Homo sapiens: one gene and its partner. The protein of the gene in region 2 interacts with the protein of the main gene of each other region in a biochemical or structural test. Each region holds a gene or a part of one and is shown on either strand. Other genes may lie near its edges.

Region 1 (8,394 bases), on a different chromosome or scaffold from region 2:
CATAAGAGGTCGAATCGGGAGGTGCCCAGAGGTCAGACACAATCCAGTGAAAGGCTAAGTGGCCTTGCTTGTTCCCAGAACCACATGTTGGCAGACAGTGGAGGCAGAAACGCATGCAGTTCTCGCAATGCCTGAAGATCCCTCCAACCTCTTAAAGTCAACAGGACCAAAACCAAACTAACTCCTTGTGTTTCTCCCAGACCCCAGCCTCCTCACTCACGCCATCCTCCTAGCCGTTCCAGGGGTCAGCCACCCTCTTGTTCATTTTATTTGAGATGCATTCTCCACAAAAACTTTGAGTAAGAAAAAATAAAGAAATTTGTTTTCAGCTAATTTACCCACTCAAGAGCTTGCTCTCATCTCTCAGTTTTTCTCGGAAAATTTTTTGCACAATCCCTCCTTTCCTGACTCACAGGAATGAAATGTGAAAGTAAATAGTTTTGAGTACATTTTAACAATAATCTTCACTTCCCTATTATCGTCTCTGAAAATCTACCCCTAAAGTCATGCACAGTAACCTTAGTAATTCTCAAGTTGGAGAGATTATGTGCCCTAGGGGACCTCTGGCAATATCTGGAGACATTTTGGGTTGCTATAAATAGGGGAGGTAGGGCTGGGAGCAGTGGCTCACGCCTGTAATCCCAGCACTTTGGGAGGCTAAGGTGGGTGGATCACCTGAGATCAGCAGTTCGAGACCAACTTGGCCAACATGTTGAAACCCTGTCTCTATTAAAAATACAAAAATTAGCTGGGCGTGATGGTGTGCGCCTGTAATCCCAGCTACTTGGGAGGCTGAGGCAGGAGAATTGGTTGAACCCAGGAGGCAGAGGTTGCAGTGAGTCGAGATCACACCATTGCACTCCAGCCTGGGCCACAAGAGCAAAACTCTGTCTCAAAAAAAAAAAAAAAAAAAAATAGGGGAGGTGGTGGTACCGGTCATCTAGTGGGTAGAACTCAGGGAGGTGGCTCAATATCCTACAATGCCCAGGACAGACGCCACAACAAAGATCGGCTGGCCCAAAATGTCAACAGTGCCAGGGTTGAAAAAACTCGCTTTAGGAGAAGACAAGAAAAGAAGAAAATGCTTCATAATATAAAATATCCTAATATTCTCTTATGCTACTTCTTCTATAAGCACAAATAGACAAAGCACACACTGTATCTTAAAATTCCACATTTAGAGTTAATGAGAATTGATGTTATATGACAAGATCTGCAGCCGGGCAGGAGGGAGAGGACAGGTCAGCTCTGATTTCCCAACATAAACCCCTCCTTACTAAATGGTAACATGACTTTATCTTCGGGCACTGCTCCAGAGTGAAATACCTTACCAATAAACATCAACTCCAGCCTTATTATTTAATTTTATTTATTTATTTAGAGACAGAGTCTCACTCTGTCCCCCAGGCTGGAGCAAAGTGGTGCGATTTCGGCTCACTGCAACCTCTGCCTCCCAGGTTTAAGGGATTCTCCTGTCTCAGCCTCCCGAGTAGCTGGGACTACAGGCGTGCCCCGCCAGGCCTGGCTAATTTTGGTATTTTGGTTAGAGATGGGGTTTCGCCATGTTGGTCAAGCTGGTCTCGAACTCCTAGACTCAAGTGATCCACCCGCCTCAGCCTCCCAAAGTGCTGGGATTACATGTGTGAGCCACCGTGCTTGGCCCAGCCTCATTTTTTAAAACAGGCCTTTTGATTTTAACATTTTCTGCAAAAACAAAGTCCTCTGATATAAACTGTGATCCAGCTCAGACCAGGCATCTATTTTTGTCCCCTGCTCCCCGACTATGTAAAAAATTCCCATCACTAAACCTTCTCATTATTGGGAGGGGGCGTGAGCATGCGTTAAGATTTATGATTGAGACTCCCCCAAAAGTAGTAAAACACTTCCAGAGGATCTAAGACAATCACCAAAAGCGCCCCTTAGCGTGTGCGGCAAAAATTATAACCGAATGCAAAGAATCTTATCAAAGGAATGTCTTCAAGTTAACCAACGTTTCCTATTACACCTTCCAAAGCTGTTAGGGGCGAGTCCCACGCAGAACGTCCGCTGCTCTGCCTGGCCTCTGTGTTCTTGCTCCAGCCACACACCGCGGTCTCAGGAGTCAAGCACGGCACCTGGCTGCCAAGGCGTGACTGGAAAAGGTTAATTAACACCGAGCCTCTTCCAGGTGAACGCGAACGCGAGTGGGTGTGGACCGCAAGGTCGGCCAGTGGCTGCCGCGGGAAGCGCAGGCCCGGACCACACCCGACCTCCGCACTTGGGGTCCCCTCCGGCGGGATCCGCAGCTCTCGGGGTGGGTGGTCTCCAGCCGGCCACTGCGGGAATGCCGCCGGTCCTGGAAGGACACCCTTCTATTCAAACTCAAGGGAGAAAGGGATCATTTAAATCCCCCGCATGGCTGCGCGCTATCCCCGGAAGGCTGCTCCAGCACCACCTAGCGAGGATGCCGCCGCGCAGGGCGCTCCCAGGTGTGCACGCGCAGGTGTACGGATTCGGGGAGCGCTCCCAGGTGTACACGCGCAGGTGTGCGGACTCAGGGAGCGCTCCCCAGGTGTGCACGCGCAGGTGTGCGGACTCGAGGAGAGCGCCCAGGTGTACACTAGCAGGTGTGCGGACTCGGGGAGCGCTCCCAGGTGTGAGCGCGCAGGTGTGCGGACTTGGGGCGGTGGGGGGCGCCCAGGCTTGCACGCGCAGGTGTGCGGACTCGGAAGCGCGCCCAGGCGTACACGCGCAGGTGAGCGAACTCGGGGGGCGCGCCTAGGCGTAGGTATGCGGACTCCGGGCCGCGAAAGACAGGTCATGCCAGTGAACCCCCAAACCCGGCCCACGCTCCCTGCGCCCCAAGCCGCTCATCCCCAACTCACCTCTTCCAGAAATTTGGTCAAATCGTACACCTTGTGGTGCAGGATCAGCCAGGTGCTCTTGCTGTGGTTGTGCTTCTGAATCTCCTCTAGGGTGTAGTACTTCACGGCCTCGTCCGACTGCTCTGCCATCTCGGTTCGCCGCGAGCCAGGCCCAGCACACACAGCCCCGTCGGGTGGAGCAGAGCGCGCGACTCAGCCAGCTCCACCCGGGACATTCCCCGCGCCGGGAACCCCACTGGGGGCTGGGCGGCCGGCTCAGGGGCGGGGCGCAGTAGAAGGGCCTCCGACGGTTGGCCATCATCCTTGTCACTCAAAAGTCCCCGCCTTCGGTCGACCCCCTCCGCCTGCCCAAGCGTGGTCCCGCCCAGTATGCGGGTGTTAATTGGCTGCCGGAGGTGCCCTTCACAATCTCCCGGCTGCCGCAGCGCGCGGAGAGCGTGACAGGACTCCACGGAGTCTGCGCGGAAGGGCGGGACTAACTGTGGCGAGGGCTGAGGTGGGAGGTCGGGGGCGTCCCCGCGGGTTAAGCGTGCGAGAGAGCGAGGTGCACCAGCGGGCATGGATGGCCTGTGCAGAGTCCAGTCTTGTGAGGGCGGCGAACTAGGCAGCGAATCGCGGGAGTTTCCTATTGGCAGCAGTCCGAGTCCCAGACGTTAATTTGTAACAAAAGTAGCGATGGCCAAGCCCATAAAGGGGGCATCTCGGAAAGCCGTTCGCATGCACGGAAGAGATGAAAGCCCCGTGCGCGCTAGAAAACGGTTTCGCAACTCACTTCGGGAAGCAAATGCGCTGCCCCCCAAAACATAAAGTTGGCGAACTGTGCCTGACCCCGCTGGGGTTTTGGAATGCCTCGTCCTCACAGGAAAAAAATCCAGGGAAATCATCTTTTCCTTAAAAAGCAAAAGTGTCCAAATTATTTCTGTGACTGAAGTAGTTTGTCTGCGGTTGGCCAGTGACATGGCAAGGCCTTGTTTGTGCATTTAAGGTAAATCAGATTCTCTTCTAGGAGTCTGGAAGAGAACTTCCCCAAAGGGCACCCTCTTTCCCTTCTGACACAGAGGAAATACCACATATAAAGAGCTACAAATGTTTGAAGGAGAAAAAAAATAAAGAAAAATTCCAGCATGTTAAAATTTGATATTTTATGTAGGCCCTTTTCAGCAATGGTAGTTAATTCCAAAAAGAACCACACGAGAGGTTTCACATGTGGGGTCATCCATCCTTCCAGGGATGCAGAAGGTTCCTACACATACTAGGTGTCTGATGAATGTGAGCTCCCTTCCCCCTGCTTACCTCCTCCATAGGAATGCATGCCTATCCAGAAAAACACAAAACACACGCATGTCAGGCCTCTGAGCCCAAGCCTGCACATATACATCCAGATGGCCTGAAGCAACTGAAGAATCACAAAAGAAGTGAAAATGCTGAAGCAACTGAAGAATCACAAAAGAAGTGAAAATGGCCGGTTCCTGCCTTAACTGATAAGACAGTCACCTGTCCTCCTGCTCTTTGCTCTGTGAGAAAGATCCACCTACAACCTCGGGTCCTCAGACCAACCAGCTCCAGGAACATCTCACCAATTTTAAATTGGGTAAGCAGCTTCTTTTTACTCTCTTCTCCAACCTCTCTCACTATCTCTCAACCTCTTTCTCCTTTCAATTTTGGCACCACCCTTCAATCTATCCCTTCCCTTAATTTCAGTTCCTTTCCTTTTCTGATAGAGACAGAGGAGATGTGTTTTATCCGTGAACCCAAAACTCCGGCACTGGTCACGGACTCGAGAAGACAGTCTTCCCTTGGTGTTTAATCACTGCAGGGATGCCTGCCTGATTATTCACCCACATTTCAGAGGTGTCTGATCACCACAGGGACACCTGCCTTGATCCTTCACCTTGGTGTCAAGTACCGACCCCCCCTGTGTCTCTGCCCTCTCTTTTCTCTGGGCTTGCCTCCTTCACTATGGGCAACCTTCCACCCTCCATTCCTCCTTCTTCTCCCTTAGCCTGTGTTCTCAAGAACTTAAAACCTCTTCAACTCTCGCCTGACCTAAAACCTAAACACCTTATTTTCTTCTGCAATACCACCTGACCCCAATACAAACTTGACAGTGGTTCCAAATAGCCAGAAAATGGCACTTTCAATTTCTCCACCCTACAAGATCTAGATAATTCTTGTCGTAAAATGGGCAAATGGTCTGAGGTTCCTGACATCCAGGCATTCTTCTACACATCAGTCCCGCCCTAGTCTCTGCTCCCAATGCGACTCATCCCAAATCTTTCTTCTTTCTCTCCTGTGTGTTCCTTCGGTCTCCACCCCAAGCTCTGAGTACTTTGAATCCTCCTTTTCTGTGGAGCCATCTGACCTCTCCCCTGCTCGCCGGGCTGAGCCAGGTCCCAATTCTTCCGCAGCCTCTGTTCCCCCACTCTATAATCCTTCTATCACTTCCCCTCCTCACACCTAGTCCGGCTTATGGTTTTGTTCCTTGACTAGCCCTACCCCACCTGCCCAACAATTTCCTCTTAAAGAGGTGGCTGGAGCTAAAGGCATAGTCAAGGTTGTTGCTCCTGTTTTCTTTATCCGACCTCTCCCAAAACAGTTAGGCTCTTTTTCATCAAATATAAAACCCCAGCCCAGTTCATGGCCCGTTTGGCAACAACCCTTAAACGCCTTACCGCCCTAGACCCAGAGAGGCCAGAAGGCCGTCTTATTCTCAGTATGCATTTTATTACCCAACCCACTCCTGACGTTAGAAAAAGCTCCAAAAATTGGATTCCAGCCCTCAAACCCCACAACAGGACTTAACCTTGCCTTCAAGGTGTACAATAATAGAGAAGAGTGGCAATTACTTGCCTCTGCTGTGAGAGAAACTTCAGCCACATCTCCAGCATACAAGAATTTCAAAACGCCTAAACCGCAGTGGCCAGGCGTTCTTCCAAGACCTCCTACCCCAGGATCTTGCTTCAAGTACTGAAAATGTGGCCACTGGGCCAAGGAATGTCTGCAGCCCGGATTCCTCCTAAGCAATGTCCCATCTGTGCAGGACCCCACTGGAAATTGGACTGTCCAACTCACCTGGCAGCCATTCCTAGAGTTCCTGGAACTCTGGCGCAAGGCTCACTGACTGACTCCTTCCCAGATCTTCTCGGCTTAGTGGCTGAAGACTGACACTGCCCGATCGCCTTGGAAGCCTCCTGGACCATGATAGATGCTTTAGGTAACTCTTACAGTGGAGGATGAGTCCATCCCCTTCTTAATACGGAGGCTATCCACTGCACATTACCTTCTTTTCAAGGGCCTCTTTCCCTTGCCTCCATAACAGTTGTGGGTATTGACGGCCAGGCTTCTAAACCTCTTAAAACTCCCCAATTCTGGTGCCAACTGGGACAGTATTCTTTTATGCGCTCCTTTTTAGTTATTCCCGCCTGCCCAGTTCCCTTATTAGGTCGAGGCATTTTAACTAAATTATCTGCTTCCCTGACTATTCCTAGGCTACAGCCACACCTCATTGTCACCCTTTTTCCCAGTTCAAAGCCTCCTTCACATATTTTCCTTGTATCTCCTCACCTTAATCCACAAGTATGAGACATCTCTACTCCCTCCTTGGCAACTGATCATGCACCCCTTACCATCCCATTAAAACCTAATCACCCTTACCCTGCTCAACACCAATATCCCATCCCACAGCACGCTTTAAAAGAATTAAAGCCTGTTATCACTCACTTGTTACAGCATGGCCTTATAAAGCCTATAAACTCTCCTTACAATTCCCCCATTTTACCCCTCCATAACCCATTCTGTTCTGGATCTCAAACATGCTTTCTTTACTATTCCTTTGCACCTTTCATCCCAGCCTCTCTTCGCTTTCACTTAGACTGACCCTGACACCCATCAGCCTCAGCAACTTACCTGGGCTGTACTGGCGCAAGGCTTCAGGGACAGCCCCCATTACTTCAGTCAAGCCCAAATTTCTTCCTCATCCGTTACCTATCTCGGCATAATTCTTCATAAAAATACATGTGCTCTCCCTGCTAATCATGTCCAGCTAATCTCCCAAACCCCAACCCCTTCTACAAAACAACTCCTTTCCTTCCTAGGCATGGTTAGGTACTTTTGCCTTTAGATACCTGGTTTTGCCATCCTAACGAAACCATTCATTCTCCCCATTTCCCCATATTACCTCTTTCCTGTTCCCCACCCAGACCACGCTTGGTTTATTGATGATAGTTCTTCCAGGCCCAATCGCCAATCACTGGCAAAGGCAGGCTATGCTATAGTGTCTTCCACATCTATCACTGAGGCTACCACTCTGCCCCCCTCCACTACCTCTCAGCAAGCCAAACTCATTGTCTTAACCTGGGCCCTCACTCTTGCAAAGGGACTGCATGTCAATATTTATACTGACTCTAAATATGCCTTCCATATCCCGTACCACCATGCTGTTATATGGGCTGAAAGAGGTTTCCTCACTACACAAGGGTCCTCCATCATTAATGCCTCTTTAATAAAAACTCTTCTCAAGGCCACTTTACTTCCAAAGGAAGCTGGAGTCATTCACTGCAAGGGCCATCAAAAGGCATCAGATCGCGTCGCTCAGGGCAATGCTTATGCTGATAAGGTAGCTAAAGAAGCAGCTAGCATTCCTACTTCTGTCCCTCACGGCCAGTTTTTCTCCTTCTCATCAGTCACTCCTACTTACTCTCCCACTGAAGTTTCTACCTATCAATCCCTCCCCACTCAAGGTAAATGGTTCTTAGACCAAGGAAAATATCTCCTTCCAGCCTCACAGGCCCATTCTATTCTGTCGTCACTTCATAACCTCTTCCATGTATGTTATAAGCTGCTAACCCGCCTCTTAGAACCTCTCATTTCCTTTCCATCGTGGAAATCTATTCTCAAGGAAATCGCTTCTCTGTGTTCTATCTGCTATTCTACTCCTCAGGGATTGTTGAGGCCCCCTCCCTTCCCTACACATCAAGCTCGGAGATTTGCCCCTGCCCAGGACTGGCAAATTGACTTTACTCGTATGCCCCGAGTCAGGAAACTAACATACCTCTTGGTCTGGGAAGACACTTTCACCAGATAGGTAGAGGCCTTTCCCACAGGGTCTGAGAAGGCCACCGTGGTCATTTCTTCCCTTCTGTCAGACATAATTCCTTGGTTTGGACTTCCCACTTCTGTGCAGTCCAATAGCGGACGGGCCTTTATTAGTCAAATCACCCAAGCAGTTTCTCAGGCTCTTGGTATTCAGTGGAAACTTCATACCCCTTATCGTCCTCAATCTTCAGGAAAGGTAGAACGGACTAATGGTCTTTTAAAGACACACCTCACTAAGCTCAGCCTCCAATTTAAAAAGGACCGGATAGTACTTTTACCACTTTCCCTTCTCAGAATTAGAGCCTGTCCTCGAGATGCTACAGAGTACAGCCCATTTGAACTTTTATATGGATGCCCTTTCTTGCTCGGCCCCAACCTCGTCCCAGACACCAGCCCTCTAGGTGACTATCTTCCAGTCCTCCAGCAGGCTAGACAG
Region 2 (4,288 bases):
TGTAGGTAGGTAGCATACAGGAGAGATTTAGATGGACACATTGGATGACAATCCGGTAGGGGCTGTGCTAGGATGAACAATGGGTCTCCATGTTGTCCACATCCTAATTCATGAAACCTGTGATTGTGGGACTGCATATGTCACAATGGACTTTTGAGTAAGTAACGGATCTTGAGGTGGTGACATTATCCTTGATTATCTTAATAAGCTTGATGTAACTAACCACAAGGGTCCTTATAAGAGGGAAAGAGATGTGAAGACAGTCACAGAGAGAGAGATTTGAAGATGCCATTGGCTTTAAAGAGGAAGGAGGGGACCGTACCAAGGAATGCAAAAAAGGCAGCTCTGGAGCTGAAAAGCCAAGGGGCAGGGCTCTCCCTGAAACCTTCTGGGGGTGGGGGTCTGGCCCTCTCCAGAACTTGTTTTAATTCAGTGAAACCCATATATCTGACTTTGACCTCCATAACTGTAAGAGAATAAAAGTCGTTATTTAAAATCACTGAGATTGTGATAGTTTATTACAGCAGTAATAGGAAACTAATATAGGAACAGACAAGCAGGCAGGAAGAAGGAGACAGGTGTATGGGCAGACAGTCTGGAGGGCAGGCAGGAGTTTGGGAGGTGGGTGGAGATTCAGGGATGTTGGGGTGTTCAGACCCAACACCAGGTCGTGGGGGTGACAAAGTCCGGCAGAGTCAAAGCAGTGAGAAAAGACAGTTTGAGAGAGAAAGTGGGTCCAGGGCGCCAAAGCTAAGGATGGAGGCTGTGAAGGCCCCGAGCTCTGGAAGTGCAGATTATTTATTGGTGATCAAACAAAGAAACAGGTGGTGAGAATGTGGGGGTCGAAAGGGCATGTTGCATTAAGCACATGATTTACAGCTGTGACGGTTTAGCATCTGCTCTGCTACTTGAGATAATGGAGAGCAGGTTCTTTTAACTCAAGATACAATTGATCCTGGGAGAGCAAGGAGCGAGGAGGCAGCAAGTTCAGACACATTCCAGAGCCACGAGCCCTGGATTCTATCCAAGCCACGAGGGGTTTTATGCCCCGGGCTTAGATTATGGTGCGTCAGGGTAGCCTTCCACCCTTCAGCACAGAGCTTGGTGTTCCAAAGGCCACAAGGGGTTTTAGACCCTGGATCCTGGACATGATCCAAGACTCTTTTACATTATGTCAGACATGCAAGCTCGGCCTCAGCTTCTCCCAACACTCAGCTTTTCTCCCAACAAGAGATACAGGTGGGTAGGAGACAGGTAGACAAGCAGGTAGGGAGCCTGGAGAAAGGTGAGAGAGAGAAGGGCAGGCAGACTGGGGGACAGCAGGCAGGTGGGAAGAAGGGAAGGTGGGCAGACAGAAAACAGGATATGGGCAGACAGGAAGGGGACAGAAGCGGGGGTCAGGAAGACAGGACGGCAGGTGGAGGCCCTCAAAGCTGGTCCTTGTCTTCACAAGGGTTAGGGAGCCTCCTGAGACGCAGGTGGATTCCATTTTTGGATTTCAACACAAGTCGTGCAATGGGGATGGGGATCCTGGTGGGATCAGGCAGCAGCTCAAAGCGGAGCAGGGTCAGGGCCGTGGCCACCTTCAGCTCGTTCATGGCAAATTGTTTCCCGATGCAGTTCCTGGGCCAGGTGGAGATAATGAATTGAGAAGTGTCCTCAGGCCCCATTCTGATCTGAGCAGGTTTTGGCCCCTGACCCCAGCCCTGAGCTGGACATTCAGTGCCCAACCTCATGTGTCCAGCCCCTGCACACATACAGCCCATGGACACTTCTACCCCGTCCTGGCTTCACACTATCCCAATCCTTGGACAGAGCCGTCTTCCTGGGCTAGCTCCTAACTCCTACCCTCTACCTCTGCTCTCAGCAGCCTGAAACCCTCTATCAAGACAAGGCCAGGGCTCTAAGGCACAGAGTCTAATCACATGAATAGATAAAGAGTTAATCAATGGTTTGTTCACTCCTCCACAAACATTTCTTGTTCTCCAGTGTGGAGGTCAGTTCAGGTCCTGTAGGGTGAGGGTGGGCCACACTCTCAGGTGCTTCCCATGTAGTGGGACACACAGGGACCTGAATCCTCATAGGGGCCCCGATGGGTGTATTAAGGGAGTCAGAAGGGCAGTGGGAGGCTTCCTGGAGGAGAACTGGGTGGGTGATCCTCAGTGTTGCCCCACCTGCCTCCCACCCCAGGGTCCGGGCTCCTGTCTAACCTCACTCCTCCATCCACCAGCCCCTGTAGCCTTCTAATTCTACTCCAGAAACATCCTTCCTTGCCCTTCCTCAGTATTCTTGCCTGGACTTTATGGTTTTCTGCTTCCCCTCCCAGCACACTGAAGCCACAGCCCAGCTCAGACCCTCCCACGCTCTTCATCACAGGTGGGACAGCATCCCAATGCCTCAGCTGGCAGATAAGCCCTCCATGGGCTCTTGCCTCACCCACATTTTACCTGTCCAGCCCACGTCCTGGCCCTGTTCATGTGGAGATGGCTCAGAATGTCCTCCCTCCACCTCTGCCTGCCACATCCTCAAGGCTAAAGTCAGATCCCAGCTGCCTCTCACTCCCTGCCAGCTGGGCCTCTCCCTCCCAGGCCCCCAGGTAGCATTCACGATTTATCCATGAACACTCACAGTCCAGTGCCAAGGACAGCACCAGGGACAGGGACACTCAACACGCCACTCAGTGAGTGAATGAGTGAAAGGATGGTTGATGGAACGATGTGTGTCTGGAGCACAGGATATATTTCTGTACAACACATTTTTGTACTTTTTATCTCTGTTTTCTCATCATGCTGCATAGGACTTGACCCAGAGAGGTAGCTTAAGAAATACTTCTATATTTGAATGATGTTAAGTTTTAAAATGAATAAAATATAATGAAATACACTGAGAGTAAATATTAATTCTGAGCTAGAAATGGACCTTAGGAATGCTCTCCAGTTCTCTAGTGGCAGCGACATGATTTGCAGGCAATGTTTAGGAGGACTTTCTCATGCTGGGATAGACAGACCAGTGCTGGAGAAGGAGTTTCAGGAGGAAGCTTTTTCTTAAAGCCTGTTCTGTGTAAGTGGACTCACCGTTTCAAAAAGTCACATAATTATTTCTTTGAACAAACTTTGTTTCTACTAAGAATTTATATCGTTTTTGCCTGTGTGTATGTCACAGGACGATTCCTGATGCCACAATGATCTCCACCGCAACCATTCTGGAGTTTTCCTCTCCAGCTCAAAAGCAATTTCAAGTGTGTTTTATATTTCACATACCAGGAGGCTTCAAATGTTGTGCGTTATATGATAATTATTGGGCTTTTCTCTCCAAGACAGTGTACTGTTCACATTTTTATGTTTTTGGCCAATATTGTGCTAAGTGGATTACAGGACTATGGTATAAAGATCTCAAGGCATGTACAGAATTTGTCAAACGGGAAAATAGATGTAAATATGTGAACACTATATAATGCAGTAAAAATTTCATTGGGCAAGACAGAAGAATGTATGATATGACACACACTGTTGTAAAACTTTCTTCAAAGGGCTACCTTAACCTCTCCCTTATATGACTTGAAAGGTAGGACTTGCAGGTCATCTGTATTATAAACAGATGCAAAGACTTCAATGATTCATCTCTACGACAGACTAGTGAATTAAATAGGGAAGGTAGTGTGCTGCATTGAGGATGTGTGGGGGGAGAGAAATCTACAGTTTACTATTCCTGACAACTGAGAAAAGCAAACAGCTGAAGTTGAATTTACTGGAGAATATCTAATTTTGAGAATTCATATCCTTAAAGTGAGGAAAATACATGAATATACTGAAGTTTGGAACATGCACTGACAGTGAATTCAGGCTGCCCATTTGAAGAAGCAGAGGGAGCAAAGTCTCCATGGGGTGCTCTGAATGCCACCTTCCTTTTGTACACAGAGACGCCCACACCAGGTGCCTGACTTTCCCACAAATACCAACATTTAAGAGCACACCTGAAGATGCCACATATGAACATCAGGCTCACAAAGATCAGAGGGTTGACCAGAGACTTCCCTCATTCCTCTATTCGAATTACCACACAGGACGTCTCACCTTGATCCTCCTGAGAAGGGCAGGAAAGCGTGGCTGTGTTGAGCAGAACCCGGTGCAAAACGGAAAGGGTCAAACACCTGCAGAGAGAGCACCAGAGCCAGGATAGTTAAGGATCCAGCACCTACTTGCCACCCATGGGGGACAGGACTCCCAGAGGTGGAAGCAGGAGAAGGTATTGGTCTTGAGGGATCACCTCATTTCCTCCTCTCAAGGAC

The links.
Region 1: of the proteins of CYP4A11 (region 2) and CYB5A, one has a biochemical effect on the other in vitro, tested with the Homo sapiens proteins (one study listed by BioGRID).

Annotation. Positions count from the first base shown.
Region 1 is NC_000018.10:74,288,883-74,297,276, forward strand, and holds the start of CYB5A (cytochrome b5), read right to left. Parts: upstream 3,082-8,394; 5' UTR 2,994-3,081; coding exon 2,865-2,993; intron 1-2,864.
Region 2 is NC_000001.11:46,928,688-46,932,975, forward strand, and holds the end of CYP4A11 (cytochrome P450 4A11), read right to left. Parts: intron 4,151-4,288; coding exon 4,074-4,150; coding exon of another isoform or gene 4,070-4,073; intron 1,624-4,069; coding exon 1,428-1,623; 3' UTR 501-1,427; downstream 1-500. UniProt on the Homo sapiens protein: A cytochrome P450 monooxygenase involved in the metabolism of fatty acids and their oxygenated derivatives (oxylipins).